Linked DNA regions of Homo sapiens. The protein of the gene in region 1 purifies or fractionates together with the protein of each later gene. This does not show direct contact. Each region holds a gene or a part of one and is shown in the gene's direction. Other genes may lie near its edges. The genes, in order: TXNDC11, TXLNA, EDEM2 and RBL2.

What was found.
Region 2: the proteins of TXNDC11 (region 1) and TXLNA purify together in Homo sapiens (affinity purification with mass spectrometry; 3 studies listed by BioGRID and IntAct, with this or other methods). This does not show direct contact.
Region 3: the proteins of TXNDC11 (region 1) and EDEM2 purify together in Homo sapiens (co-immunoprecipitation; 4 studies listed by BioGRID and IntAct, with this or other methods). This does not show direct contact.
Region 4: the proteins of TXNDC11 (region 1) and RBL2 purify together in Homo sapiens (affinity purification with mass spectrometry; 3 studies listed by BioGRID and IntAct, with this or other methods). This does not show direct contact.

The regions. Positions count from the first base shown.
Region 1 is NC_000016.10:11,732,547-11,739,910, reverse strand, and holds part of TXNDC11 (thioredoxin domain-containing protein 11), read left to right. Parts: intron 1-3,677; coding exon 3,678-3,894; intron 3,895-5,831; coding exon 5,832-5,929; intron 5,930-7,364. UniProt on the Homo sapiens protein: May act as a redox regulator involved in DUOX proteins folding. The interaction with DUOX1 and DUOX2 suggest that it belongs to a multiprotein complex constituting the thyroid H(2)O(2) generating system.
Region 2 is NC_000001.11:32,182,487-32,189,850, forward strand, and holds part of TXLNA (alpha-taxilin), read left to right. Parts: intron 1-2,038; coding exon 2,039-2,130; intron 2,131-5,467; coding exon 5,468-5,638; intron 5,639-7,364. UniProt on the Homo sapiens protein: May be involved in intracellular vesicle traffic and potentially in calcium-dependent exocytosis in neuroendocrine cells.
Region 3 is NC_000020.11:35,130,234-35,137,597, reverse strand, and holds part of EDEM2 (ER degradation-enhancing alpha-mannosidase-like protein 2 isoform 1 precursor), read left to right. Parts: intron 1-2,648; coding exon 2,649-2,860; intron 2,861-5,814; coding exon 5,815-5,956; intron 5,957-7,364. Other genes in the region: MMP24-AS1-EDEM2 (ER degradation-enhancing alpha-mannosidase-like protein 2), read left to right, coding at 2,649-2,860, 5,815-5,956. UniProt on the Homo sapiens protein: Involved in the endoplasmic reticulum-associated degradation (ERAD) pathway that targets misfolded glycoproteins for degradation in an N-glycan-dependent manner.
Region 4 is NC_000016.10:53,458,107-53,465,470, forward strand, and holds part of RBL2 (retinoblastoma-like protein 2), read left to right. Parts: intron 1-1,344; coding exon 1,345-1,511; intron 1,512-3,634; coding exon 3,635-3,744; intron 3,745-4,445; coding exon 4,446-4,549; intron 4,550-6,119; coding exon 6,120-6,257; intron 6,258-7,331; coding exon 7,332-7,364. UniProt on the Homo sapiens protein: Key regulator of entry into cell division. Directly involved in heterochromatin formation by maintaining overall chromatin structure and, in particular, that of constitutive heterochromatin by stabilizing histone methylation.

The DNA.
Region 1 (7,364 bases):
AGGATTTTTTTTTTTAATTTAATTTTTATGAACAGCTCCAGGCTTGAAATAAATGTCTGCTCTTTTCAATGTCTGTGGCTTGGCTGAATTCAAACCAGCTAATATGGAAAAGGTTGATTTGAGGTTGAGCCACAGTGAATAATCGTGCGTTTCTGGGCATCTAATCTTTACTTACCTGTGTCTCTTCATCCTGCTCACCTTTCTTTTACCTTGATTTAGAGGGAAAAAAAATTGTCTGTGTGTAGATACATATGTATGTATACATGTATTTATTTTGCTTTATTCCATTTTGTAATTTCAAAGCTGCCTCGAATGGTCTTTGCAAGGAAGTGATGTAGGGTGTGAATTTCATAGGAAAATTGGGGTTTCAACAGGCCTTTTTTCTATGTTGCCCCGGCTGGAGTGCAGTGGCTATTCACAGGTGCAATTATGGCATGCTGCAGCCTCAAACTGCTGGGCTCAAGTAATTCTCCTGCCTTAGCCTCCTGAGTATAGTAGCTGGGACTATAGGCACATGCTACTGGCTCAGCAACAACAGGCCTTCTTATTTGCAACCAACTCGAGTTTTTTGTACCCGAGACATACCCCTCATAGCTGCAGGAAATCTTTGCTCTATGTATAGTTTCTCTAAAGCGTGAAGCAGATTGATGAGTTAAATAGAAACTCACCAGTGTTTCTGATGGAGTAGAGGCGAGCGTTTCTTCTCCCTGGCCAATATTTGATTTTTGATTGGCCTTGTACTTTATCTGGCTCATTTAGGAATGCTTCTGAATATGCAGAGCAAAATTACTGAGTTGCTCTTTATCCTTTCGTTGACTGTCAGACCTACATTTTTCCTCAGATTGCATTATTTGATGCTTACATTGCATTTTTTTTTTCTTTTGAGATGGAGTTTTGCTCTTTTTTCCCAGGCTGGAGTGCAATGGCGTGATCTTGGCTCACTGCAAACTCCGCCTCCCGTGTTCAAGCGATTCTCCTGCCTCAGCCTCCCAAGTGGCTGGGATTACAGGTGTGCACCACCATGCCCAGCTAATTTTGTATTTTTAGTAGAAATGGGGTTTCCCGGTGTTGGTCAGGCTGGTCTTAAACTCCTGACCTCATGTGATCCACCCGCCTCTGTCTCCCAAAGTGCTGGGATTACAGGCGTGAGCCACGACTCTTGGCCATGTGCAGTTTGAATGGTAGAAAAGTAATTTCTCCAAAGAGCAGAATTTTGGATCTCTTGAAAACGTGTCTTTTTTTTTTTTTTCCTGTAGTGCCCTCCCCACCTCTTAGGTGGCTATCTTCTTGTCATTCAGGTCTCAGAGCTTAAATTATAGCACCTCCCAAGCCACCACTCCATCAGAGGAGCTACCATGCCCTTCTGTACATCACCTTGTTAAATTTTTCACATAGTGAGCATTTAGTATATTTTTATTGTTTACACATTTGATGTTTTTCCTGTCTTCCTCCCCTAGAAAGTGGTCTCCTCGACAACACGCAGTGCTAGCTGCCGCAGCCTTAGTGCTTGTGCCCAAAGCACAGTCACAGCTGCTCAGTAAAGAATTTTTGAATAATTGTGTAAGTGATTTTTTCAGGTTATGAAGGCATTCTGCATAGACTGAAAGCTCTCTGATTGAAGGTTAAAATATTAGTTTGAGTGAATAAATAGGTGACTTGCTCCGTTGGATACTTCTGCCTGTTCTGGAATTTCATATAAATGCAGTCATAGTGCATGTACTCTTTAGCACTTTTTTCACTCAGCATAATCATTTTGAGACTCATCCAAGTTATAGTACATATGAATAGGTTTTGCTTTTCGTTTTTATTGTGGAGTAACATTTAAGTAAATGGGTAAGAATATACCCCAGTTTATCATTTTACCTCATGAGTCATGCCAGATTTCTTATGCTCACTATTTACATAGTTTTTCTTTTCCCATCCTTATGCCTTTATCCTGTGTCTTTATATTTAAGATATATCTCGTTTAGATAGTGCATAATTGGGTCTTGCTTTATCCTGTCTGGCAGTCTGCTCCTCCTAATTAGGTTGCTTCCTTTTTTTTTTTTTTTTTTTTTTTGAGAGACGTAGTCTCGCTCTGTTGCCGAGGCTGAGTGCAATGGCATGATCTTGGCTCACTGCAACCTACACAATTCTCCTGCCTCAGCCTCCCGAGTAGCTGAGACTACAGGTATGTGCCACCACGCCCGGCTAATTTTTTGTATTTTTTTCAGTAGAGATGGGGTTTCACCATGTTAGCTAGGATGGTCTTGATCTCCTGACCTCGTGGTCTGCCTGCCTCGGCTTCCCACAGTGCTGGAATTACAGGCATGAGCCACCGCGCCCGGCCTCTCCTTTTATATTTAACGTAATTGTTGAGGTAGTTGGGTTTAAGTCTACCTTCGTGCTCCTTGTTTTCCATTTGTACCGTCTGGCTTTTGTTCTTTTCTTGTTCCTTTACTTACTTTCTTTCTTTTTTTTTTTTTTAGATGGAGTTTTGTTCTAGTCACCTAGGCTGGAGTGCAATGGTGCAATCTCGGCTCACTGCAACCTCCGCCTCCCGGGTTCAAGCGATTCTTGTGTCTCAGCTTCCCGAGAAGCTGGGATTACAGGCGCCCATCACCACGCCCAGCTACTTTTTCATTTTCAGTAGAGACAGGGTTTCACCATGTTGGCCAGGCTGGTCTTGAACTCCTGACCTCAGGAGATTTGCCTGCCTCGGCCTCCCAAAGTGCTGGAATTACAGGCTGAGTCACCACGCCTGGTCTCCTTTACTTTCTTTGGGGTTAATCTCATCGCGTTTTAGGTTTCCATGTTTATGTTCTCTATTTATCTCGTTTAGATAGTGCATAATTGGGTCTCATTTGTTTCTTAGCAAAGCTGCCCTAATGGTTTGTGGTATGTGAGTGTAGATGCATGGACAGCTCAGGGTGTTTACTAGGGCCCTTCTACTTGGTGGGATGCAGCCTGGGCCTAGATCTTTAGGTCTTGATGGGGAAAGTTACTTCTGACCACTTGTTTGTTCAGCGTTCTTTTCTTTTTCCTCCTGATCTGTTTCTTGTGGGAAGCTCAAGTGTTCAAAAAGCCCATTTTCCAGTTAAATAGGCTGTTGCTTTGTTACTTATCTTCATTAGTCTTAGGATTATGATATATATCTGGAGGAATGTATATTATTGTTTAATTGTTACTGTTACCTGAATGCCCTGGATAAGTACAAGCCAACTCCAGCTAATAAGCTTAATGTTTTCTCAAAGTTGAGTTGATTGTAAGCATCTCCCGTGGAAATCTTGTTAATGGTAGTTTACATGCTCCCTCACCGTAATTCTGAGCTTGCATGCTGGTGGCTCTAAAGCCCTGGAGATAAGTGGCTTTTGTGGAGAGCCAGGCTGCAGAAAAAGGAGGATGAAGTCTTTGGGATGTGGGGAGCAGGAATATGGATTATTCAGAGACATCCTTCTCTGCTCTCCACTGCCCTTCCAGCCTACACCTAGGGGACAGAATCTCAGAGAATTGTTTCCAACGTATTATTCATGTCTTGCATTTGCTCAGCCAGATGTTGCCTTTCTAGGGCAGTGATTTTGGGACTCCATTTTCTTATTCAAAAGAGGATTTTCCTTTTAAGCTTCATTCTACTTCCACAGAGCTATTTTTAGAAGAAGATAAACTAAGCAATCTTTTCTGTGTTTGCTCTTTTTTAGTCGAGCAAAAGATGTGATAATACCAGCAAAGCCACCTGTCAGCTTTTTCTCCTTGAGGTCTCCAGTCCTTGACCTCTTCCAGGGGCAGCTGGATTATGCAGAGTACGTTCGACGGGATTCAGAGGTGGTACTGCTCTTCTTCTATGCCCCTTGGTGTGGACAGTCCATCGCTGCCAGGGCAGAAATTGAGCAAGCAGCAAGTCGGCTTTCAGATCAGGTAATGCTCACATTCAGCTTAAGAATCAAATGACTGTCAGTCCTATATGTAGGGCAGGATGTCCCCACAGAGACACCTTGCCCAACGGGCAGACTTTGCCAAGGTGAACTCCAGGAGTCGTTTCTAAGTTACAGAGCTTTCTATAAAGCAACAGAAAGGATTTCCAATTGTGGCGATTGTACTCCAAGGCAAGTGTGGGAGCAGATTCTGAATCTCATAACACAAGCCAATGCTTATCCTGGGGTGCCATACTGTTTGGTTTCAGCATTGAAAAAGGTAGAGGGACTGAAAATCCTAGTTCTTGCATATCCATTTGATACTTGCTAGTTAGGTATTTTAGGTAAGAAAATGTATGTATGATATGACTGCATTGTAACAAGGCCGACCTTTTTAATATATGGACCAGAACTATATTCAGCAGATAAGGAATGCCACCTTTGGGCTAGGTAAGAAAGATATATAGGCAAATAAGTCACCTGTTATGGCAGTGGTTTTCAGCCCAGTGGACCCCAGTTGTGCTTTAGAAAATAAGTATTTTATGATGTCCCTTTTTCTTCCTAAAAAGGAATTCATAGATGATAAAGTTTTCCTATACATGTAATTTCAAAATAATCTAATGCACGGATTGTAACATAGAGGTGAGGGGGGAAGAAAGTAATTTGTAACTAAATGATATATATTTTAGTATGTAAGTGCACAGTCAGAACAGGTCCATATACCTTTATGTAGAATCACTGAATGGGATAGTTACAAACGTAGACTGATAAAGGTGATATGTTGGTGACTTACCTGCCACATGGACATTGCTCTTAGTAATTGATTATCCTAAATGGTGAACAGTCTTGGTAAAATCCTGAACTATGCAAAGCCCTTTCTGCTCTCAGTTTACATAGAAGTTGCATTCCTGAAAAATTCAGTGAACACAAAAAGCATGCTTTAGATTCACATGTAAAATGGAGCTAGGTACTGGGCTTTGATAATAACAGGTTTTCCCCAACATCAGTGTTTGGCAGGCGTTTTGAACTCCTCTGGAATGCTATGGACGACTCTTCCGTGTGCAAAGCAGGTTTGAGTGTAGCAGGACATCTACCAACACCCCTGCCCTACGTATGCACTGTAGCTTCCCCCAGTCATTGTAGCAAGCCAAAAGCATCCCACAGATTTCTAAGACTCTCCTGCTCAGAACCACTGATGTGAAGTAACGTGTGTAGGCAGCTGAGTTCCAGAAGTTCATTTGGAACTGTCATTTGGTTTTTCTTAGAAACTGTGGAGCCTTCCAAATTTAGAGAACAAAGTTCACGTTGCCCATGTTGGGCACAAGAGGGATATCTATTGTGTTTTATTAATAAGTGTGAATTAGCTACCTTACTGTCAGCCTAAGCAGTATGTCCTTCTGAGTGATGGCATTAGTATAATAATAATGATATTCTGGTGTGCCAGGCCCCATGCCAATTCTCAACCACTTTGCAAGGCGATGCTGTCAGCCCTGTTTTTCTGAAGCAGGACTGCAGGCATAAGGGGTGAAGCAGTTTGTTTACCATCACGTAGTGGTGGGGGTTGTAGTGCAATCCAGGGACTGCTGCTTTTTTTAAAAAAAAAATTTCAGCTCCTTCCAAATTGAGAGCTTACTATTCCATGTACTCAGTAGGGAAAAAAGTGGGTTTATTTTTGGAAACACACAGAAATCTTTTGAACTGTATTGCATGGTAAGATTGGTAAACACGGTCCAAGTCCTGCCTGGACATCATAGATAAGAGTATGTCTTTCTTTTTTGTTTTAGTGATAAATTATGACCTTTGAAAACTCAAAACAGTTTTTTTCATAGTTTCTGTTTCAGTGAGAGAGGAATCATTCTATTTTTAAATTTCATCTTTTAAATCTTGGTAACTTTTCAGTTGTTATTCATAGTCATTTGAAAACCTTTTTTGGCTCTGCAGGTGTTGTTTGTGGCAATTAACTGTTGGTGGAACCAGGGGAAATGCAGAAAACAGAAACACTTCTTTTATTTTCCTGTAATATATCTGTATCATCGGAGGTAAGAACTTTTTAAATAGCGTCTCTCATTCCAGTTTAGTTTGCCAGTTTATAAATGAATTTTGCATTTTTTCTATATTAAAGTATTAGATATTCACTATAGAAAATTCAGATAATACAGATAAGCAAAAATTAAAAAAGAAAGATCTGGATAATCCACCCCCCTTTTTAAAGCTAAACATGGGATCAGGCAGTAATACTATTTCCTAAACTGCTTTTCTCACTTTTTTGAGCATCTTTTCATGTCATTACACATTTTACAGCATTGTTTTTAAAAGTACGAATTACTCCAATGCATTTCAGATATCGTAAGAGTGTTTTGTAAAAATACACAAAATTTCTTATCGTTTCATCTGGAGGCATAGCAGAGTCCAGAGTGTATCTTACCATCTATTCTATTGGGAAGAAAATTACTACAAGTACACAGTCCCATGTCCACAATTCTTTTTTTTTTTTGAGACGGAGTCTCACTCTGTTGCCCAGGCTGGAGTGCAGTGGCGCGATCTCCGCTCACTGCAAGCTCGGCCTCCCGGATTCACGCCATTCTCCTGCCTCAGCCTCCCAAGTAGTTGGGACTACAGGCACCCACCTCCCTGCCCAGCTAATTTTTTTTGTATTTTTAGTAGAGACAGGGTTTTACCGCCCATGTCCACAATTCTAAAGTCACAAAGAGGGCTGAAAAACGGAAAGAGTTTTATTTTATCTTATTTTATTTTATTTTATTTTGAGACAGAGTTTAGCTTTTGTTGCCCAGGCTGGAGTGCAGTGGTGCAATCTCGGCTCACTGCAGCCTCCGCCTCAGGGTTCAAGCCGTTCTCCTGCCTCAGCCTCCCGAGTAGCTGGGATTACAGGTGCCTGCCACCACGCCCGGCTAATTTTTGTATTCTTAGTAGAGACGGGGTTTTACCATGTTGCCAGGCTGGTCTCGACCTAGGCTGTACTAGAGTACAGCCCAGACCCTGCTGTGAATGATAAGTAATGTCTAAAAATCTGACTCAAAGAGTTTTGGAGATAGGAGATAGGACTTTGGACTTTGTTCAGGGTGATTGGCTTGAAGTTTGTTGAAAGTAAAATGGGTAAAGGAGATTTGATCAGTAGAGAGCTTTCCTTTTTCCTTCTAAAGTTCTTGGGCCATAATCAATGGGGATTTATAGCAAACATGCACAAACAGTGATTTGTGGGTTCTCTGTCACATTCCATCCCATTTCCGTGTCTGTAACATAAACTGTTGTCTGGCACATAGTATTGACTCCCAGGAACTATTAGGTAGTATTTGGGCAAAAACACACTTTTCTACCCCATCTCTACCCCCACATTTTCCTCTGGATATTAGATGTTTGTATTTTAATATTTGTAGTAAGAAGCCAGTTTTTGCTTAGGGACCACTAAGACCATTTTCAGATTTCTTCCCCACTTTTTGGCCAGTAACTTGGAGG
Region 2 (7,364 bases), on another chromosome or scaffold:
TCCCGTCTCTACTAAAAATACAAAAATTAGCTGGACATGCTGGCACACGCCTGTAATCCCAGCTACTTGGGAGGCTGAGGCAGGAGAATGGCTTGAACCCGGGAGGCAGAGGTTGCAGTGAACTGAGATTGTGCCACTACATCCAGCCTGGGTGACAAGAGTGAAACTCTGTCTCAAAAAAAAAAAAAAAGAATCTAGAATCTAAGTCGAGTGTCATTATATCCATGTTTTATTCCTATTCCCTTTTCCCCTTATGTATCCTCTTACTTTAAAGAGGAACTTTAAAAAATCTTAGGGACGACTAGGCAGAGTGGCTCACACCTGTAACTCCAGCACTTTGGGAGGCCAAGGCAGGCAGATTATGAGGTCAGGAGTTCGAGACCAGCCTGGCCAACATGGTGAAACCCCAGTTCTACTAAAGATACAAAAAATCAGCCGGGCGTGGTGGCACGTGCCTATAATCCCAGATACTCGGGAGGCTGAGGCAGGAGAATCACTTGAACCCGTGAGGCAGAGTTTTCAGTGAGCTGAGATCATGCCATTGCACTCCAGCCTGGGTGACAGGGTGAGACTCCATCTCAAAAAAAGAAAAAGGAAAAAATCTTAACGTCACATACATGGAAAGTATCATCTTCTTCACCCCCCACCCCCAACTGAGATGGAGTCTTGCTCTGTCACCCAAGCTGGAGTGCACTGGCGCGATCTCAGCTCCCTGCAAGCTCCGCCTCCCGGGTTCACACCATTCTCCTGCCTCAGCCTCCCGAGTAGCTGGGACTACAGGCGCCTGCCACCATGCCCGGCTAATTTTTGTATTTTTTTAGTAGTGACAGGGTTTCACTGTGTTAGCCAGGATAGTCTCGATCTCCTGACCTCATGATCCGCCCACCTGGGCCTCCCAAAGTGCTGGGATTACAGGCGTGGGCCACCGTACCCTGCCTTTTTTTTTTTTTTTTTTTTTTGAGATGGAGCCTCGCTCTGTCCCTAGGTTGGAGTGCAGTGGCGCGATCTCGGCTCACTGCAAGCTCCACCTCCTGGGTTCACGCCATTCTCCTGCCTCAGCCTCCCGAGTAGCTGGGACTACAGGCTCCTGCTACCATGCCCGGCTAATTTTTTTGTATTTTTTTTAGTAGAGACGGGGTTTCACTGTGTTAGCCAGGATGGTTTTGATCTCCTGACCTCGTGATCCGCCCGCCTCAGCCTCCCAAAGTGCTGGGATTACAGGCGTAAGCCACTGTACCCTGCCTTTTTTTTTTAATTAATTAATTTTTTTAGACAGAGTCTCGCTCTGTCACCAAGCTGGAGTGCAGTGGCGCGATCTGGGCTCACTGCAACCTCCGCCTCCTGGGTTCAAGCGATTCTCCTACCTCAGCCTCCGGAGTAACTGGGACTACAGGCGCGTGCCACCACACCAAGCTAATTTTTTTGTGTATGTCTTTAGTAGAGATGGGGTTTCACCATGTTAGGATGGTCTCGATCTCTTGACCTCGTGATCCGCCTGCCTCGGCCTCCCAAAGTGCTGGGATTACAGGCATGAGCCACCTTGCCTGGCCGAAAGTATCTTCATTTTAAAGTTCACTGTTTGGCTACTCTGTTGACAAGAGTTTAGTATTTCTCAAGGAGGCTAAGATACCTATTCCTTTTTGGATCCTACCTCTATCAGGAGGGTGGGCCTTCCTTGCATTGAAACAGTATGAAACAGTAGCCCTGAATTCATAAGTGGGACACCTTTCTTCTATTGGTAGAGCAGGCAGTTTTTTTCTCCTGCCAATGGTGCCTACTAAGGAGATTTCACTAGGGTACAGTCGTTCATTTGATAAGCATTTGTTGAGCATATCCTCTGTGATGGTACTATGGACAGTACTGGGGCTATAGTGAGGGCAGGATTGAGTTGGTCCTTATGGCAAGGAAGGCAGCTAATCAACAAGCAAAATATAAAGTATGATGGGGAGGGCTGTCTTCAGCACTCATGAGTGTGAGCCCAGGCCTGGAGGGGACACCTGGAGAAGAGGGTGCATGTCTTTGCTCCTGTGCTTTTCAGGGAAGGAGATCACGTTGCTGATGCAGACATTGAATACTCTGAGTACCCCAGAGGAGAAGCTGGCTGCTCTGTGCAAGAAGTATGCTGAACTGGTCAGTTCCCCCCTCCGCGGGCACCTTCCCTGCGTTGGGAAAATCAGCATGCCACCTGGTGTAAGGTTGGGGGTGCAGAGTCAAGTAGGTGGCTTAATTCCTGTTCAGCTTTTCTCTGAACTATCTGTTAAATGGGGAATCACTTCCAGCCAGCCTCTTCAGGGCTGTGCAGCAAGAGGAGAAACTGCATATTCCTTGAAAGAAATTTCTCAAAGAATGATTCCAAGGTGGTAGAGCCCTTGTTCCTGGCCTGAGTCCAAGACACCTTGTGATCTTGATGCTTCTTCCTCAAATACAGATGCATAGAGCCATTATCACAGTTAATAAAACTAACACTAGTCACTTGATACTTTTTCCTTTTACTCCAGAGCAGTCTTCTTGTCACTGCCTCCTCATATTCCCCATGACATTGACTTTTAACAGAAACTAGACTAGCTGTCTTGTAGGATGCCCCCTTCTAGCTTTGTCATCTCTGTGGTATCATTTTACTTCTTTACCTCCTGGTACATGTAAGTGAAGTAGAAGTTAGCTCTAAAGCTTGATCCAATTCAGCTTCAACTTTTTGACAAGAATTCTTCATAAGTACTTCATGTTCCATCACAATAAATGCAAAGCATGCTCTTCCCACTTTGTTGTAACATTGTTCAGTGGGTTGGGGGTGGGGCAGCCAGATTCTTCCATCATCAGGTCCCTTGTCAGAATTTGAACTAACAGATTTATCCATTGATGGTCACAGCCTGTGTATGTATGTATGTATGTATGTATGTATGTATTTATTTATTTATTTATTTTTTGAGACGGGGTCTTGCTCTGTCGCCCAGGCTGGGGTGCAGTGGCACGATCTCGGCTCGCTGCAAGCTCCGCCTTCTGGGTTCATGCCATTCTCCTGCCTCAGCCTCCCGAGTAGCTGGGTCTACAGGCGCCCGCCACCATGCTAGGCTATTTTTTTTTTTTTTTTTTTTTTTAGTAGAGACGGGGTTTCACCGTGTTAGCCAGGATGGTCTCGATCTCTTGACCTCGTGATCCGCCCGCCTCGGCCTCCCAAAGTGCTGGGATTACAGGCTTGAGCCACCACGCCTGGCCTATTTATTTATTTATTCAGAGTCAGAGTCTCGCTCTGTCACCAGGCTGGAGTGCAGTGGCGCGATCTCGGCTCATTGCAACCTCCACCTCCCAGGTTCAAGCGAGTCTCCTGCCTCAGCCTCCCGAGTAGCTGGGATTACAGGTGCATGTCACCATGCCTGGCTAAATTTTGTATGTTTTAGTAGAGACAGAGTTTCAGTATGTTGGCCAGGATGGTCTTGATCTCTTGGCCTCGTGATCCGCCCGTCTCAGCCTCCCAAAGTGCTGGGATTACAGGTGTGAGCCACTGTGCCTGGCCTCTAAGTATTTATTTTAAAATTAATTCATTCCACACACATTTATTAATATTTTCCTGTAAGGAACTTTACTCATCTTTAAAATGGGGAATGTCATACCTGCCTAATGACATTCTTGTAAGGATTAAATAAAAGGTATAAGGAAGATAAGCACCCTTTTGGAGTGATCCAGCCAGGGGAAAATTGCTGATGCAAGAGAGGAAATGAGTTGCTAGAGTGGTGTTGTGAGTAGAGGAGGGGAGCTGAGGCCTGCCCAAGAAGGGGGCTTGGCTGTGGTAACCACATGGCTAGGTCTGTGTGACTGGAGGAGAGGACGGGGCAGGTGGACTGGTAGATGTGCAGCTTGTGCCCCTGATTCTCTAGTTTCTTCTGTGTTTTGAGATTTGATGAGAACGATGAAATAGTTGTCTGGAAGGAGAGGAGTGTGAATAGCATATGCATTGTATTGGGATTGCTGGTCTTCCTGAAATTGGTGGCCATGAATTTAAAGTGAGACTCTTCAAGTAGGGTTGTTATAGTACTGGTGTAAAGCAGGAAGGTGCTTTACTAGGGTTGCAGTACTACTGGGGAAGGGCCAAGAGAGTTGAGGGTGTAAGAAATCCAAGCCAGGTAATGTAGTTATTTTAAAGGAGAGTGGAAGGATGGTTGAGTCAATGGATTGGAGGTCCTATAGGGTAAGAGACTTTCTGAGGATCACAGATACTGATTGGAATGAGCTAAAAAGATAGGTGATGGTAGTCCTGGACTGGGATGCTGGAAATTGAGATAGTGGGTGTGCTCTCTGGTAGTGACAAAGTCTAGATCTGCGCTGTCCAAGATAAATTCGTCTCTAGCTAATTGACATGTGGCCAGTTTGAATTTGAACATGCTATAAATGTAAGATACACATCAGCTTTTGAAGACTTAAGCAAAAACAAAGAATATAAAACATCTTTTTGTGAGAGAGTGTCTCAGTCACCCAGGCTGGAGTGCAGTGGCGTGATGTCCTGCTTCCAGGTTCAAACGATTCTCCTGCCTCACAGCCTCCTGAGTAACTGAGATTACAGGCGCATGCCACCAAACTGGCTACTTTTTTGTATTTTTTTTTTAGTAGAAACGGTTTCACCATGTTGGCCAGGCTGGTCTTGAACTCCTGACCTCAAGTGATCTGCCTGCCTCAGCCTCCCAAAGTGCTGGGATTACAGGCATGAGCCACCACTCCCGGCCTCACTTTTTTACATTGATTCCGTGTTGAAATTGTAATGTTTTGGATATTAGGTTAAATACATATATTACTAAAATTAATTTCACCTGTTTTTTACTTTTTTAGTGCGGCCAGTAGAATATTTTTAATTACTTATGTGGTTTGCATTATATTTCTGTTGTACAGGCCTGGATAGGGTCATGGGAGGGGAACTGAGCTGGGGAAAGGAGTGGGTTTGTGGAAGAGGTGATGGACTGTGAGGCCAGGGAGTTAGAAGGATTATCTGTTGATACTGAAGTGGCCACAAATGAGAAAAGTAATTGTGTTGGGGAGAGCGCTGATGAACGCAGCGCTAACGTTTTGAAGGAATGCGAGGGAGCGATGGGGGTCTGTCTGTTAATAGGCACAAGGTACGGTAGCAGGTGGTCTCATCCTCGGGCATGAGTGTCCAGCAAGTTGGGGAAATGCAACAGCTTGAAGTGGCTCTAGTGGCCCAGAGTCAGAGCTGGAATAGGAATTGGCATCTGCTGGCTGTGTGGCCCCTGCTTGCCCTAGTGAGTTACCATTTCTCTGTCCCTACGGTGGAGCCTTTGGGGTTATTGTGAGTTCATGGGAGGAGCGTGTAAGCACCGGCACAGCATCAGCCCATGAGAGTGCTCCTGGCCTGAGAGGGTAAGGGTCAGGGCAGCTCAGGAGACCCTAGACCTGCATAGTGATCCCCCCACCAGGAAGGCCCCACAAGATGCTCACCTGCCCTCCCTATCCCTGTCCCCAGCTGGAGGAGCACCGGAATTCACAGAAGCAGATGAAGCTCCTACAGAAAAAGCAGAGCCAGCTGGTGCAAGAGAAGGACCACCTGCGCGGTGAGCACAGCAAGGCCGTCCTGGCCCGCAGCAAGCTTGAGAGCCTATGCCGTGAGCTGCAGCGGCACAACCGCTCCCTCAAGGTAGGCCTGGGCCCCCTGGAACAGGTGACTCTGGTTTCCTTGACTTCCACTTAATGTTTCTTTCATGGGCTTTCCTCTTAAAAAGTAGTGCAGGCTAGGGCCAGGCGCAGTGGCACACATAAGTGATTAAAAATCTTCTGGCCACTAAAAAACAGAAATTAATTTTAGTAATATACTTAACCCAATATCCAAAACATTACAATTTCAACATGAAATCAGTGTAAAAAAGCAAGGCTGGGTGTGGTGGCTCACACCTGTAATCCCAACACTTTGGGAGGCTGAGGTGGATGGATCACTTGAGGCCAGGAGTTTGAGACCAACCTGGTCAACGCAGTGAAACCCCATTCTACTAAAAATACAAAAATTAGCCGAGTGTGCTGGCAAATGCCTATAATCCCAGCTACTCAGGTGGCTCAGGCATGAGAATTGCTTGCACCTGGGAGGCTGAGGTTGCAGTGAGCCGAGATTGCATCACTGCATTACAGCCTGGGCAACAGAGTGAGACTCAGTGTCCAAAAAAAAAAAAAAGTAGTGCAGGCTTGTGGCATAGAAATACACTTTCTCAATAATGCCTTACGTTAAGAGAGTACTGCTTGTAATCATTTGACATGTATTAGATAAGGTGAAGGATAAAGTACTAAGAGAATCCATAATGCACTGGCGTTAGTATTTCTCAATGAAATGACAGTCCCCTGGTAAGCGGAGGCCTGGCTCTGACAAGCAGCTCTTGTCCCAGACGTTGGTCAGTCAGGAACCTGGGTCCTTCCCATGTTCTGCTGCTTCTATGGTGAGGTCAGTCTGTGGTTACACCAAGTTTAAATACAGCCTTTTAACTTTCTTTTTTATATGTAAAATCTTACATGTAGTTTTTAGAATGAAATTATTATACATGTACCATTTCATATCCTGTGCCTTTTTTTCACTTTACATAACATTTTTCCCTATCAGTATGTGTAGGGCTATCTTCTCATTATATGGATATATTATATCAGTGCCCTAGTTAAAGCATTTTGGGGGTTGTTTACAATTTTTCATTATTACATATAGAACTATAGTGAAAATTCTTGTTATATTTATCACTGGTCAGTTATATAGAACTTATCTGTAGGATAAGTCATGGAATTGAAATGGCTAGGTCACAGTATATGCAGATTTTTCATTTTAATAGATTTTGCTGGATTGCCTTCCAGTGAGGGGGCAGTGTGCCTTCCCCATCAAAAGTGTTGAGTGCCTAATTCTGCACAACTTTGCAAACCCTGGGTGTTACTAAATTTTAACAGCTTGGTCTCTGGGGGTACAGAGGGGACAAATGCACATTAATCTGAAATCTGGAAGAATAGGCCTTAGGAGATCCGACTTGCTTCAGAATGGCACTTAGCACTTACATGTGTGCATGTGTGCCTGCATTTTTTCTTCCTTTTTTTTTTTTTGGGGACGGAGTCTTGCTCTGTGGCCCATCGCCCAGGCTGGAGTGCAGTGGCGCGATCATAGCTCACCACAACCTCCGCCTCCCAGGTTCAAATGACTCCTCTGCCTCAGCCTCCCAAGCAGCTGGGACCACAGGTGCACACCATCACGCCGGCTAATTTTTGTATTTTAGTAGAAACGGGGTTTCACCATATTGGCCAGGCTGGTCTCAAACTCCTGACCTCGTGATCCGCCCACCTCAGCCTCCCAAAGTGCTGGGATTACAGGCGTGAGCCACCGCGCCTGCCATGTGCCTGCA
Region 3 (7,364 bases), on another chromosome or scaffold:
AATGAGCCCATTTGTCCCCTTCCAGGTACTACAGTTATTCCACACACTGCTGGAGTAACAGGGGCCCAGGGAAGGGTGTTGGTGTGAGCATTAGCAGCCCTGGATTCTAGACTCAGCTCTGCCAGCCAACATCGTGACCAAGCCACTCTTTCTCTTCATAGTTTGTTGTTTGTTTGTTTGTGATGGAGTCTTGTTCTGTCGCCCAGGCTGGAGTGCAGTGGCACAATCTCAAGTCACTGTAACCACCGCCTCCTGGGTTCAAGCAATTCTTTTGCTTCAGCCTCTTGAGTAGCTGGGATTACAGGCGCCTGCCACCATGCCCAGCTAATTTTTGTATTTTTTAGTAGAGATGAAGTTTCGCCACGTTGATCAGGCTGGTCTCAAACTCTTGACCTCAAGTGATCTGGCTGCCTCGGCCTCCCAAAGTGCTGGGATTACAGGCATGAGCCACTGTGTCTGGCCTCTCTCCACAGTTTGGTTTCCCCATCTATCAAATGAGAATCATAATTTCTACTTCCCTACCACATCGGGTTTTGGAGAGGCTAAAATGAGGTCAGGAAGGAGAAACTGCTTAGAGAACGTCCAACACTTTTAAAACGAGAGGGATTTGTTTTGTGGCTAAGCTGTGTCCAGGGCTGCAGGTCAAGCCTCCATGTTTTTGTCTAGTGGGGCAGTAACACCAGGCTCAGTAGCATCAACTGTACACTGTGTTCCCTTCAGGGTGTGGTGGAGGCTCTGAGGACTGTTCACACCCAGACACGTCACACTGTGCTTTCCATCACCTCTTGGCCATCTCACTTATTTATCCCTTTTCTTTCTTAATTTTTTTTTTTTTTTTTTTTTCAGACAGGGTCTTGCTCTGTCGCCCAGGCTGGAGTGCAGTGGCGTGATCATGGCTCACTGCAGCCTCTCGAACTTCTGGGCTCAGTTGATTCTCCCACCTCAGCCTCCTGAGTAGCTGGGATTACAGGCAGATGCCACCATGCATGGCTAAATTTTTTTTTGTAGAGATGGGGTTTCACCATGTTGCCCAGGCTGGTCTTGAACTCCCGGGATCAAGTGATCCATCTGCCTTGGACTCCCAAAGTGTTGGGATTACAGGCGTGAGCCACCACACCCGGCCTCTTTATCCTTCTCACATAGCACTTGCCTCTCCTTTGGGGGAGAGCTGAGGATAGCGGGTGAGCTAGGTTCAGGTCTCACTCATGGCTCATGGCTCATGGCTTGAGCGTCTCCTTGCAGACATTGTGTCCTGTGTGATTCATCCCTGGAGGAAACTCTGGAAACTCTGCCTAGCTGCTCCTCCTTTATAATTTAATTATTTTTGGTCATTGGTCATTTTATAAAAAAAGGTCAAGAAACAGGATTTTGTCACTCCTCTTCTTTTTATTACAGCCTGACTTTTTCTGAAATATTGCTTAGAGCCCTTCCTGGTTGTGACTTGCTCTCCCGCTGGTGCCTGCCAGATTGCAAGTTTCTTGTCTGTGGCAGACACAGTTGCTAGACCCTGTGGTTCTTGGAAGTGTCGACACCTTTGTTCACAGTTTGGTGACGCATAGGCTGCTCTGGAGTTGTTTGACCTTTAGGCCCAGAGAGGAAATCTCTGCCTCTGGCTGGTTGTCCAGTTCTCGTCTTGAACCAGAAGGCACTTGGGTGCCACTTGGGTGGGGCGGGCAGAGAACTGGACTGGGGCTGGGGTGGGCACAGGGGAGGCGTTCCCATCCCAGCTCTGTTTGACTCTCTCTGTGTGACCTGTGGCTGAATTACTTCTTTACAGGCATGGTTTTCCCTACCTATAAATCGAGGGTCATACTATATCCGTGGTTTAGTGGTTTATATCCTATTTTGCTTCCCTTTAAAAATAATTTAGCCCCTATACTCTTTATTTAAAGCAGAGATCTTTATTTAAAGTCTATGAATGGCTTTGTTTATTATTATTATTATTTTGAGACAGGGTCTCGCTCTGTCACCCAGGCTGGAGTGCAGTGGTGCAATCTCAGCTCACTGCAGCCCACGCCTCTTGGGTTCAAACGATTCTCGTGCCTCAGTCTCCCAGATAGCCAGAATTACAGGCGTGCACCACCACGCTTGCCTAATTTTTGTATTTTTAGTAGAAATAGGGTTTCACCATGTTGGCCAGGCTGGTCTCGAACTCCTGGCCTCAAGTGATCTGCCTGCCTTGGCCACCCAGAGTGCTGGGATTATAGGCGTGAGCCAAAAGTCTATGAATGGCTTTGAACGGGGCTTACTCTTGTCATTGTGCCACAAGCCCCACCACTTTCTGTGGCTTAAACCCTGCCTGCATCACAATAAGTTACCTGCCTGGGCTTTGAAGGCGTAGTGTAAAATAAATAAAAATAGGTAAAGCTCTCTAGCTAAAGCGAGTGTGTGTGGAGCACAGCCTGCTCCCTGCCCCCTCATGATGAGCAGGAACCCAAGGTTATGCAGAGCAGTGTTTGACAGCATCTGGGCTGGGTGGCTGCTCAGGGCCCTCCAGTTATGACATTTATCTTTCTCTGGCTCAGACTCTAGCAGGATACCCAGGAGAAAGAGGGAAGTGCTGGCTAAGGTCCCAGGCTTTGGGCGTGTATCAGAACTATCCCTATCCCCCTGCTCCTGTCCGGGATCATAATTTGTCGATTGTTCAGCCTTTCAGACCCCCACTGGCATGCCATATGGAACAGTGAACTTACTTCATGGCGTGAACCCAGGAGAGACCCCTGTCACCTGTACGGCAGGGATTGGGACCTTCATTGTTGAATTTGCCACCCTGAGCAGCCTCACTGGTGACCCGGTGTTCGAAGATGTGGCCAGAGTGGCTTTGATGCGCCTCTGGGAGAGCCGGTCAGATATCGGGCTGGTAGGTTCGCTGCTGCCCTTCCTGTTTGAGTCCCTGCTTACGAGGCCCAGGGCTCTGAGCAATAAGTTGCAGTCAAGCCAAGGAAAACTTAGGGTGACCTTGGGAGTGGTCCAGGATTTGGGCTCAGGACACCAAAAATAGACCAAGCCTCCAATTCAAGTTTGGCTTGGAGTGGGGAGGAGAGTGGGAAAGCACGTTTCTGGCAGGCAGCAGGGGCTGCATTCAGCTTTGACCAGTTGAGATTCTCTGATTTCTAGGAAGAGGGTCGTATGTTTCATGCCCCTGACTCACTTGACGGCTTCAGATCATCAGCTCGTCCGGCCTTCATTTTTAGCGTCTATCTGTATTTGCTGTGTTTCTTAGGACACCGGTTCTGAGAGATACTGAGTGGCAGTTGCATGAAAAAATGAGTCTTGGCCAATTAAGTTAGGGGAATATTAGATATAATATCCCCCCCTTTTTTGGAGAGTCAGAATGCACATGAGCAGAATAAAAATCCTCTAGTAAAGAAATCTATTCAACTTTGTTTAATTTAACATTTCCCAAACTTATTTAACACCAGAGCTTCCCTTTATCTTCCAGTACTATTAACCCATGGAAATTGAACACACTTTGGACCAGATGATCTCTAAGGTCAGTTTCAGCTTCTAAATGGGATAATCAATAAGATTAACAGTAATTGAGCCAAAGCCATCCAGGACATAACACTGGATTTAGTCAGAACTGGATTCAAGCCCTGGCCTTGCTACATCGAAACTGTGTGACCCTGAGCAAGTCACTCAACCTCTCTGGTCCTCAGTTACTTCAGCAGTAACGTTAATATATTAATACCAACTTTGCTGAGTCACTCTGACTTAGGAAGACTGCATTTAGGTCTAGGCACATTTTATGCAGTCTGGTGCTAATCCAGCTTGAAAAGTAAAGCTTGTGTGAGGACTCCCCGAAAATCCCTTAAGAAGGTGCCCCCCTAAGGCTGGGTGCGGTGGCTCACGCCTGTAATTCCAGCACTTTGGGAGACTGAGGCGGGCGGATCACCTGAGATTGGGAGTTCGAGACCAGCCTGACCAACATGGAGAAACCCCATCTCTACTAAAAAATACAAAATTAGCCGGGCGTGGTGGTGCATGCCTGTAATCCCAGCTACTTGGGAGGCTGAGGCAGGAGAATTGCCTGAACCTGGGAGGTGGAGGTTGGGATGAGCCGAGATCGCGCCATTGCATTCCAGCCTGGGCAACAAGAGCGAAACTCCATCTCAAAAAAAAAAAAAAGGTGCCCCGCTGGAGACCTGTAGTAAATCCCTTAGTCCATCTCAGGCAGGTTTTGCTCCAGCAGTGGGACCGTAGTAGACTCTGTTGGTGCCATGCCCATATCCTCTCAACTCTTAACATTTCCATGCACACTGGCCAGTCTTCCAACTGCCATCACCTGCGCCTCTTTGCCTGTGGGTCTCCTCTGGTGCCTGGAGCCACTCTGCTTGCCTTTGGCTGAGGGTACCAGGATTTAATGCTACCCATGAGTAGCTCTCAAGCCGGTAACTGATACTGATGGGAGTTGGTGGATAAACATTCCAGTTCCCTGCCCCTTGGGTGGGATCACTCCGAAGCTGGAGCTCTACACTGAATTCCTAAGCTCCCCAGCAAGATTGAACTCCAGTTCCCATGGTGGAAACCTGCCTGATGGCATACCCCTTAAATGCCGCCTCCCTTGCCCTGCCTCACTTCCCCCTCCTCTACTGGTGTTTACAAGGACTTACCTTCCAAATCAACTACTTTCAGGCAGAATGAGGTTGTGCTCCTGGGGGGACACAAACCAACGCGGAACAGTTAGCTATTTCTTTGAGTACCAGATGAAGTTACCAGCTTCCATGAGGGTCTAAGCCATATGAAAAATACATATATTTGGCTGGGCGCAGTGGCTCACGCCTGTAATCCCAGCACTTTGGGAGGCCAAGGCAGGCGTATCACCTGAGGTCGGGAGTTCGAGACCAGCCTGACCAACAGGGAGAAACCATGTCTCTACTAAAAATACAAAAAATAAAATAAATACAATAAAATAGAAAAATACGTATCTTTGTTTATTTTTTTGAGACAGAGTCTCCCCCTGTCGCCCAGGCTGGAGTGCAGTGGCACGATCTCGGCTCACTGCAACCTCCCCCTCTTGGGTTCAAGTGATTCTCATGCCTCTGCCTCCTGAGTAGCTGGGATTATAGGCACACACCACCATGCCTGGCTAATTTTTGTGTTTTTATTAGAGACAGGGTTTTACCATGTTGGCCAAGTTGGTCTCGGACTTCTGACCTCCAGTGATTTTGCCCCCCTCAGCCTCCCAACGTGCTGGGATTATAGGCATGAGCCACCGCGCCTGGCCGGCATTGCCAATTTTTCACAGTCTCTACAGAGACTGAACAATTAAAAAAAAAAAAGTCAAAGGATACAAAAAAGGGTACTCAGTGACATTGGTGAAGTCCCCTTTTGCCCCTGTCTCCAGCTATTCGGTTTCTCTCCTTAGAACCACTCTGTCAGCTTCTTGGTGGATGTTCTTATTGAGTTAATTTATGGAAATACGTAAAGCACGTCTGTGTCTTCAGATAGTGGAATCACATGCTGGGTGCTGAGAAATCAGACAGATTGCGGCAACAGCAAATTCTCATCTCCCATCTCACACTCACTCTAGGCAGGACATAAACACTCCAAATCATTTTTCTTTTTCATTTTTTGCTCAATGTGTATAATTAAGTCCTCATAAATGTGCATGAGATGCATCTCTACTATGCAGATGTACAGGAAGGCTGGCCATGATCCAGCATTGCCCTTCCCTCTCAGGGTCTGCATGTTTCCCAAGAAGCACTGGGGCACCTGCCCTGCATCTCCCTGGGCAGTCAGGGTTGGGGGTGAGTAGATCCTTCTTTGGCCATCGGCCTTCCCGTTGGGACCGTGTGTCTTTCTCTCTCTCAGGTCGGCAACCACATTGATGTGCTCACTGGCAAGTGGGTGGCCCAGGACGCAGGCATCGGGGCTGGCGTGGACTCCTACTTTGAGTACTTGGTGAAAGGAGCCATCCTGCTTCAGGATAAGAAGCTCATGGCCATGTTCCTAGGTAAAAATGGCAGAGTAAGGGAGCTTTTCCCCTCATTTTTCTTGCTGATGTGTGATTTGTTTAAAAACTTTTTTTTGAGACAGAGTCTTGCTCCATCTCCCAGGCTGGAGTGCAGTGGCACAATCTAGGCTCACTGCAACCTCTGCCTCCCAGGTTCAAGTGATTCTCATGCCTCAGCCTCCTGAGTAGCTGGGCATGTGATGGTGTGGACTACAGGCGCACACCATCACATCCAGCTAATTTTTGTATTTTTAGTAGAAACGGGGTTTCACCATGTTGGCCAGGCTGGTCTCAAACTCCGGACCTCAGGTGATCTGCCCGCCTTGGCCTCCCAAAGTGTTGGGATCACAGGTGTGAGCCACCACGCCTGGCCTGAGTGCCTGCAGAATCAGTTCTGAATTCAGAGTCACTATGGACTTACACTGCCCACTTCATGCCCACTACAGCACTTGATGCCTTCTTGCAAAAGCCAACTGAAGCGTGCTGCATTCTGTGTATGTAGCCCTGGATTTCTTATCTCCTGGCCATTGCACATGGCATCTTCTTTGCCTAGAATGTCTTTTTTCCTGTCTTCCTATGTCCAAATTCTTTTCACCCTTCAAAGCCTAACTTAAATGTCGCCTTGCCCAGGAAGTAGCTTGATCCTTCTACAGAATTTGGGACCTTCAGCATCTTTCTTGCAGTTAGCTCTCATCAACAGTTACAGCTCTACAAATTGAATGCAGAATCCATGCCTTACTCATCTTATGTTCCCCACAGTGCTTTACATGTGGTAGGTAATAGATTAATACCTGTTGAATAAATACATCTTACCCGCCAGGCCCTTAGACACTAGCAATCTTGAGGAATTGTTGAGCACCTAATTACTATTATTATTATAGCTACAGTAGTCCCCCGTTATCCACAGTTTTGATTTCCATGGTTTCAGTTATCCATGGTCAACTGCAGTCTGAAAATAGGTGAGTACAGTCAGATACGATATTTTGAGGCTGGGTGCAGTGGCTCACGCCTGTAGTCCCAGTTTTTTGGAAGTGAGGATTGTTTGAGGCCAGGAGTTTGAGACCAGCCTGGGCAATATAGTAAGACCCCCTCTCTAAAAAAACAAAGATATTTTGAGGCACTAAATTTACATAATTTCTTTTTTTCCTGTCTCTTACCAAAAAGACAAATTCACATAACTTCTATAACATATATTGTTATACTTGTTCTGCTTTATTATTAGTTATTGTTGTTAATCTCTTCCCATGCCTAATTTATAAATTAAACTTTTTCGGCTAGGCACAGTGGCTCATGCCTTTAATCCCAGTGCTTTGGGAAGCTGAGGCGAGAGAATTGCTTGACCCCAGAAGTTCAAGATCAGCCTGGGCAACATGGTGAGACCTCGTCTCTACAAAAAATAAAAAAAAAT
Region 4 (7,364 bases), about 42 Mb from region 1:
CTTAGTTGTATTACACTTTAAGACATAGAGAAAACATGTAGGTTTGTTTCTGTATACAGTAAATTTCTGTGCTTTTCTATATCTTATGAAACTTGAATAGTTGGCTCTGTTGCCAGGTGAAAGTTTTGCTAGGTTTTTTAAAAAATTAGAATAAGTACATTTAATACACAGGGAAATTTTATCTTGAATATTAAAAGACATTGTTAAGCTATCTTAACCTTTCAGAGTTTATTTGAAAAATCAGAAAGATGTTTTACTGGCTCCTTTGACACCAAGTCACATCTTCTCCATATTTATTGTCAAGAATGTTGACTTTAACTTATTTCTCTGAAGACCTGTCTACCTTAGGGGGAGAACCTGTGATAGATTCTGGTAACCAAAGGTAGAGGAGGGGCAGGAAGACCAATGAAGGCTGTTCTGCATCAAGTTGCCTTTTTAGGGAATGTTCAACTTATTATCTGTCTCTGAAGCAAATTTGAATATTTGGATGGTGGGTGTATTAATTCATTTTAACGCTGCTGATAAAGACATGCCCAAAACTGGGAACAAAAAGAGGTTTAATTGGACTTACAGTTCCACATGACTGGGGAGTCCTCAGAATCATGGTGTGAGGCGAAAGGCACTTCTTAGGTGGCGGTGGCAAGAGAAAAATGAGGAAGAAGCAAAAGTGGAAACCCCTGATAAGGCCGTCAGATCTCGCGAGACGTATTCACTATCACAAGAATAGAACGGGAAAGACTGGCCTCCATAATTCAATTACCTCCCACTGGGTGCCTCACACAGCACATGGGAATTCTGGGAAATACAATTCAAGTTGAGGCTTCGATGCAGACATAGCCAAACCATATCAGTAGGCTTTTGTTAAATCATGGATTTTTTTTGGAACCAAATTTAATCACAATTTTCTTTTATCTTTGAGTGTCTGCAAAAATAGCAGTAGATGGGAATTGTGAAATTCTGTTTCTCAGAGCTGAGAATAATCTTAATTTTTCAGGTGAGCAGAATGCTTATCTTTGCCTCCGAGCATAAGTTTTACAAGAGGGAATGTAGGGAGCTGTACCTTATTTTAGAGTTTTAACTTTTAAGAGACAAACTTTTAGTTAGCTAAAATACAAATTATTCTTTCACACCTTCGTCTTCACATGGATATTGGCGGCTCTTAATGCTGTTATGTTTAAATTCCAAGAATGGTGACATTTGAGTCACTAAAATTTATTGATATTGTAAAGATAAAGTCTTACTGGCTTGAAGTCCCATTTGTGAAGTGAATTAAAGTCTTTCTGGCCTAAAATAATGTTCTTTAAAAAATGTTTATTAATTCTGTGTAATTTTTTTTTTCTTTAGTCCAAAGCACTTAGAATCTCCACACCACTAACTGGTGTTAGGTACATTAAGGAGAATAGCCCTTGTGTGACTCCAGTTTCTACAGCTACGCATAGCTTGAGTCGTCTTCACACCATGCTGACAGGCCTCAGGAATGCACCAAGTGAGAAACTGGAACAGATTCTCAGGTTAGTTTGAGCCCTGTCTGCTTTCTAAGATTTGGTTATTGACCATTTTCCAATTTCCTATTCTTTCATTATTAATGCCTTAATTCACCCATGAATAATTTTTTATCAATTGTATACTCAGTCCTGTTGTGAGTCTATAGAGGACCTAGCAATAAGATGTATAAGTGGAAGATCTTCTTTCCTTAGATTTCTTTAATATAATACAAGACACAGTAACTAATAACACCAGACAGTGTAGAGTAAAACACAAAAGTGTCTTATTGCCAACTGTTCTTTCAAGATTTCAGGGAGTGGTGAGGTGGGGGCGGGGGGAAGCTCAGTGATGATGGGAATTGTCAAAGGACTTTATGAAGAGGGTTGAACCTGAGGTAAGTTCTGAAGGGTGACTCAGATTTGAAAAGATTAATAGAGTTCCACATGTTCATAAAGCAGGACAAAAACCACTGTAACTTTTGTAAGCTCTATAAAACATCCTTATCCTGGAAAGGAAGTTCACTGCATTTAGTTCCTTTGATCTCCCTGAGACTGGTAGGAATATCATTGAGTTTTAATTAAAAGCCCAGTAGGCTGAATCTCATCATCTTATGCATAACCTTTGGCAAGTTGATTTGAAAAGTTACCTCCAAGGTCCCTCTCAGTCCTAAAACCTTATGATATGATAACGTAGACCCAAAAGGACCCCATTTTATTTCTGATGATGGTATATCAAGAAGACCCTATATGTACACATAAGTAATTTCCCACTCATAGCCAGGCTTCTTAAATGCCAACTACTTTTCCTTTACATTTTAGTGAAGTCTGCTTTATTCATAAACTTGATTGTGATTTATACTCAACAAGTTATATCTCTGTGGCCTCTTCCTGAGTCATGTTTTTCAGATGCACCTTGTTTGCCTTGAATTTAGAAGCATTTCGTAAATACATTTCAGAAGCCATCTTAATCTCTGTGTCTTCCAGATCGCTTTACAGTTTCTAACTAGGCATAACAGCATTTTAAATCTTAGGTACCATTAGTGGGGTTAAATAAATATTACCAGTAAATACTAGGTAAAATAAAGGGTGCTATTTTTGTTGAAAGGTATGTGTGTGTGTGTTCCCAGAAAAATTCTGCTTGTATATGTATTCAGTAGTTATCTCTAGCAGGACTGTAATTGATTTTTATTCTCTTTATAATTTTTTAAACTTGCTTCATTTTCACAAAGAATATGTATATAATTATATATATATTTGTGATCAAGATAAAAACAGTTGTTACAAAAAGCTTACATGGTGATAATTTGTATAATGCTTCTGGATTGAACATATATTGCTTTCTAATAATAGAAAGACTGAAGTAAACCTCGTTGGCGGGAAAAAAATGTAGAATGCCAGGAACAGTTTATGTGAGTCTGTAGTATGGGTTTTACACCCCTTCATTCTATTTTCTTCCAGGTGTTCTTAATGGGAGTTTTACTGTCCTCTAGGGAAATAGTTAAGGGCAAGTTTGGGATAATCAGTGACTGGGGATGTGTAGGACAGGTGGGGGACAGTCATAGATATCGAATGGGCCCAGGCCAAGGTTGCTAAACTTCCTGCACTGAAAGGTGTATCCCCGGCCGGGCGAAGTGGCTCATTCCTGTAATCCTAACACTTTGGGAGCCTGAGGCAAGTGGATCACTTGAGGCCAGGAGTTCGAGACCAGCCTGGCCAACATGGTGAAACCCCATCTCTACTGAAAATACAAAAATTAGCTGGGCGTGGTGGCAGGTGCCTGCAGTTCCAGCTACTTGGAGGCTGAGGCAGGAGAATCACTTGAACCTGGGAGGTGGAGGTTGCAGTGAGCCAAGACTGCATCACTGCATTCCATCCTGGGTGAAAGAGCGAGACTCTGTCTCAAAAAAAATATATATATATAAAATAAAAGGTGTAGCTCCCACAAGAAAAGTTTTTTTTTTTTTCATTCAAACTGGTAATACCACCACCTTTGAAAAGGAAGTATGGGATCTCTTGGATTAATTTGGGAAGTGTATAGTTTCTGTTCAGAGTGTTTTATATTTACATGTTAGTGAAATTATAGAAACATTTTATCCCCTTGTGACTTGACAAGACCTTTAAATTATGTTATTTCTCATTACCTTTTTTAGGACATGTTCCAGAGATCCAACCCAGGCTATTGCTAACAGACTGAAAGAAATGTTTGAAATATATTCTCAGCATTTCCAGCCAGACGAGGATTTCAGTAATTGTGCTAAAGGTAAGGTTTAACATTGTTATTCTGCTTTTATGTTTGAAGTTTAACTAAATGGAGTCATTTCTTACTAACTAAGAAAGATGAGGAAAAGATTTATGACTTTAGACTGAAGGCTAGGATATGGCTGTCCAATTTTTCTGGTCAACCAACTGATTTCTGAGCCCTTCTCAGTAAGATAGAAATTTTAGAATGGTATCTTTATTATATTGGACTTCTGATGCTTTTTTATCTGCAAATCTTTAGGTTTTTTTTGTAAACTGGAAATTAAATAGAAGTGTAGTGATTCTTCAACATATTGAGAATAAGGACAGGAGATATCACTGTTATGGGCCCAAACCTGGCCTAGGAATTGTTTGCTGTCAGGAATTGGAACTAAGTAGGTGTGGACTAGTAAGCCAATTACATACCTCTTAGCATTGGTCTGTTTTGTTCAAACATAGAGGAAAAAAAAGGGTGTTAGTCTTAAATGATATTACAGTTCCTTATGTGCAAATTTCATTTAATAATTTTAGAAAAATGTGACTGTTACCATGAAGAAAATTAAGGTATCTTAGGGATAATTAAAACACCAATCATAAGAAGTGTGCATATCTAAAGTATTGGGTTGGTTTTGAATTTTATTTTGTGAGTAAAGGAGGAGGAATGGGCCTTTATTTTCTTTGTGTGCCATTTTTGTGGGGTTTTTTTTTTTATTATTTCTACAGAAATTGCCAGCAAACATTTTCGTTTTGCGGAGATGCTTTACTATAAAGTATTAGAATCTGTTATTGAGCAGGAACAAAAAAGACTAGGAGACATGGATTTATCTGTGAGTAAAATAACCAATGTATTGATCAGCGCAATGAAACATAATTTCCTTCCTGCCCTATTCTGTGGGTTGTTTTTTTTACTTTATATATAGTCTCCTTTCATACACAAAAGTTTTTAATTTTGATGAAATCCAATATATTTTTTCACTAGTTGCCTGTGCTTTTGTTTTATGTATGTATGTATGTATGTATTTACCTATTTGAGATGGAGTCTTGCGCTGTCGCCAAGGCTGGAGTGTAGTGGCACGATCTCGGCTCAATGCAACCTCCGCCTCCTGGGTTCAAGCAATTCTCCTGCCTCAGTCTCCCAAATAGCTGGGATTATAGGCATGTGCCACCATGCCCAGCTCATTTTTGTATTTTTCGTAGAGATGGGGTTTTGCCATGTTGGCCAGGCTGGTCTTGAACTCCAGACGTCAGGTGGTCCGCATGCCTTGGCCTCCCAAAGTGCTAGGATTACAGGCGTGAGCCACCGCACCTGGCCTGTTGCCTGTGCCTTTGGTGCTTCAGTAGCTTTTAATTAAAAAATAATAATTATTGACAATGTTGGAAAATTATAAGCAAAAAGAACAAAATAAAAATCATCTATGATTAATGTCATCCTATGATAAACATATTCACTTTTGGTACATGGTCATCTAGCCAGTCACCTGCCTGCCTGCCTTTCTGTTTTTTTGGGTTTGTTGTTGAGACAGAGTCTCACTCTCTTGCCCAGGCTAGAGTGCAGTGGTGCAATCTCGGCTCACTGCAACCTCTGCCTCCCAGATTCAAGTGATTCTTGAACAGTGTTGCCTGGGCTGGTCTCAAACTCTGGACCTCAGGTGATCTGCCTGCTTCGGCCTTCCAAAGTGCTGGAATTACAGGTATGAGCCACCTGCCTGGCCCCTTTCAATATTTTTTTTTCCTTTTTTTTTTTTTTTTTTTTTTTTGAGCCAGAGTTTCGCTCTTGTTGCTCAGGCTGGAGTGCAGTGGTGCAACGTCGGCTTACTGCAACCTCTACCTCCTGGGTTCAATTGCTTCTCCTGCCTCAGCCTCTGAGTAGCTGGGACTACAGGTGTGTGCCACCACACCTGGCTAATTTTCTATTTTTAGTAGAGATGGGGTTTCACCATGTTGGTCAGGCTGGTCTCAAACTCCTGACGTCAGGTGATCTGCCCACCTTGGCCTCCCAAAGTGCTGGGATTACAGGCGTGAGCCACTGCGCCCGGTCCCCCTTTCAGTTTTTTATAGCACTTACTGTAAATACTGTTTTGAAACATCTTTCCCTGTCATTGTTCTTCTAAGCATCAGTGTGTGTGTGTATTTTGGTTAGAGATGTAATCTCTTTTAAGATACATTTTATAATAGGTAAGGTTTTAAAATTCTCATACATTCCTTTTATATATTTCCTCTACTAAAAAATGGGCTTTATTTATATAATTAAGAAAGGTTTTGTAAGAAAATAAGGACACACTTTGCACTCACTCAGAAAATGAGACTTTCTTTGGTATTTTCACTTAAGTTCACTGGGTATGAAATGACTTTTTAGACTAAGTAAATGTTTCTAATGCTAATAACTTTATTTTATAGGGTATTCTGGAACAAGATGCGTTCCACAGATCTCTCTTGGCCTGCTGCCTTGAGGTCGTCACTTTTTCTTATAAGCCTCCTGGGAATTTTCCATTTATTACTGAAATATTTGATGTGCCTCTTTATCATTTTTATAAGGTATTTTTAAAAATATGATACTAATGGGGATATTGTAGATGAGACCAACTTCCTGTTGTTAGTCATTTAGTTCAAGTTAACATCTAAGAACATTTATTCTGTTTTTATTTACATAGTTAATCTCTATTTGTGGAGTAGAAAAGAAATAGAATCTTAAGACCTATGTAAATTCTTTTAATATTGTATGAAAGATCTATTTTGGGTAAAAGCTTTGATTCCTCTCTATCTAATAAAAGTTTTTAGAATACTGTGATTTTTATGAGCTGAGAAGGCTTAAAAAAAGTAGCACACATGTCACTAGCTAATCTTGTATAGCAGCCTTTTTTTATTTTATGAAAATTAAATACCATTGAAAATGTCAGAAAAAAAATAAAAAGTTCTCTTTCATGTGTTACAGAGAGGCATAGAGTTAAAGCATTGATTTGGTAGCTAGTTCTTTTTTTTTTTTGAGATGGAGTCTTGCTCTGTCGCCCAGGCTGGAGTGCAGTGGCGCCATCTCAGCTCACAGCAAGCTCCACCTCCTGGGTTCACGCCATTCTCCTGCCTCAGCCTGCCGAGTAGCTGGGACTACAGGCGGCCGCCACCACACCCGGCTAATTTTTTGTATTTTTAGTAGAGACGGGGTTTCACCGTGTTAGCCAGGATGGTCTCGATCTCCTGACCTCGTGATCTGCCCGCCACGGCCCCCCAGAGTGCTGGGATTACAGGCTGGTAGCTATTTCTTGATACTGACTTAGCATATGAGTTTATCTTAACTCTCATAAGATAGTCAAAACTAATTTTTATAGTGGCATAGATTAAATGTTTAGAGATTTTTATATGAAATTTTAAGAGTAATGTTTTTCAACCTCAATGTACAAAACATGTATTTTCATTAAAAAATTTTGAAATACATCACAATGTAAACCATTTTATATAATTCATAGTTTGAACTATAATTATTTACAAAGACAGTAAAAGGAAGAGCGGCTGTTTCAAAATAATACTTCAACTTGTAATTTTGACTAATTTCTTGTCTAAATATTTAAAAATATTTAATAATTATTCAGTGAACCAAGACATTTTTTATTTCAGGTGATAGAAGTATTCATTAGAGCAGAAGATGGC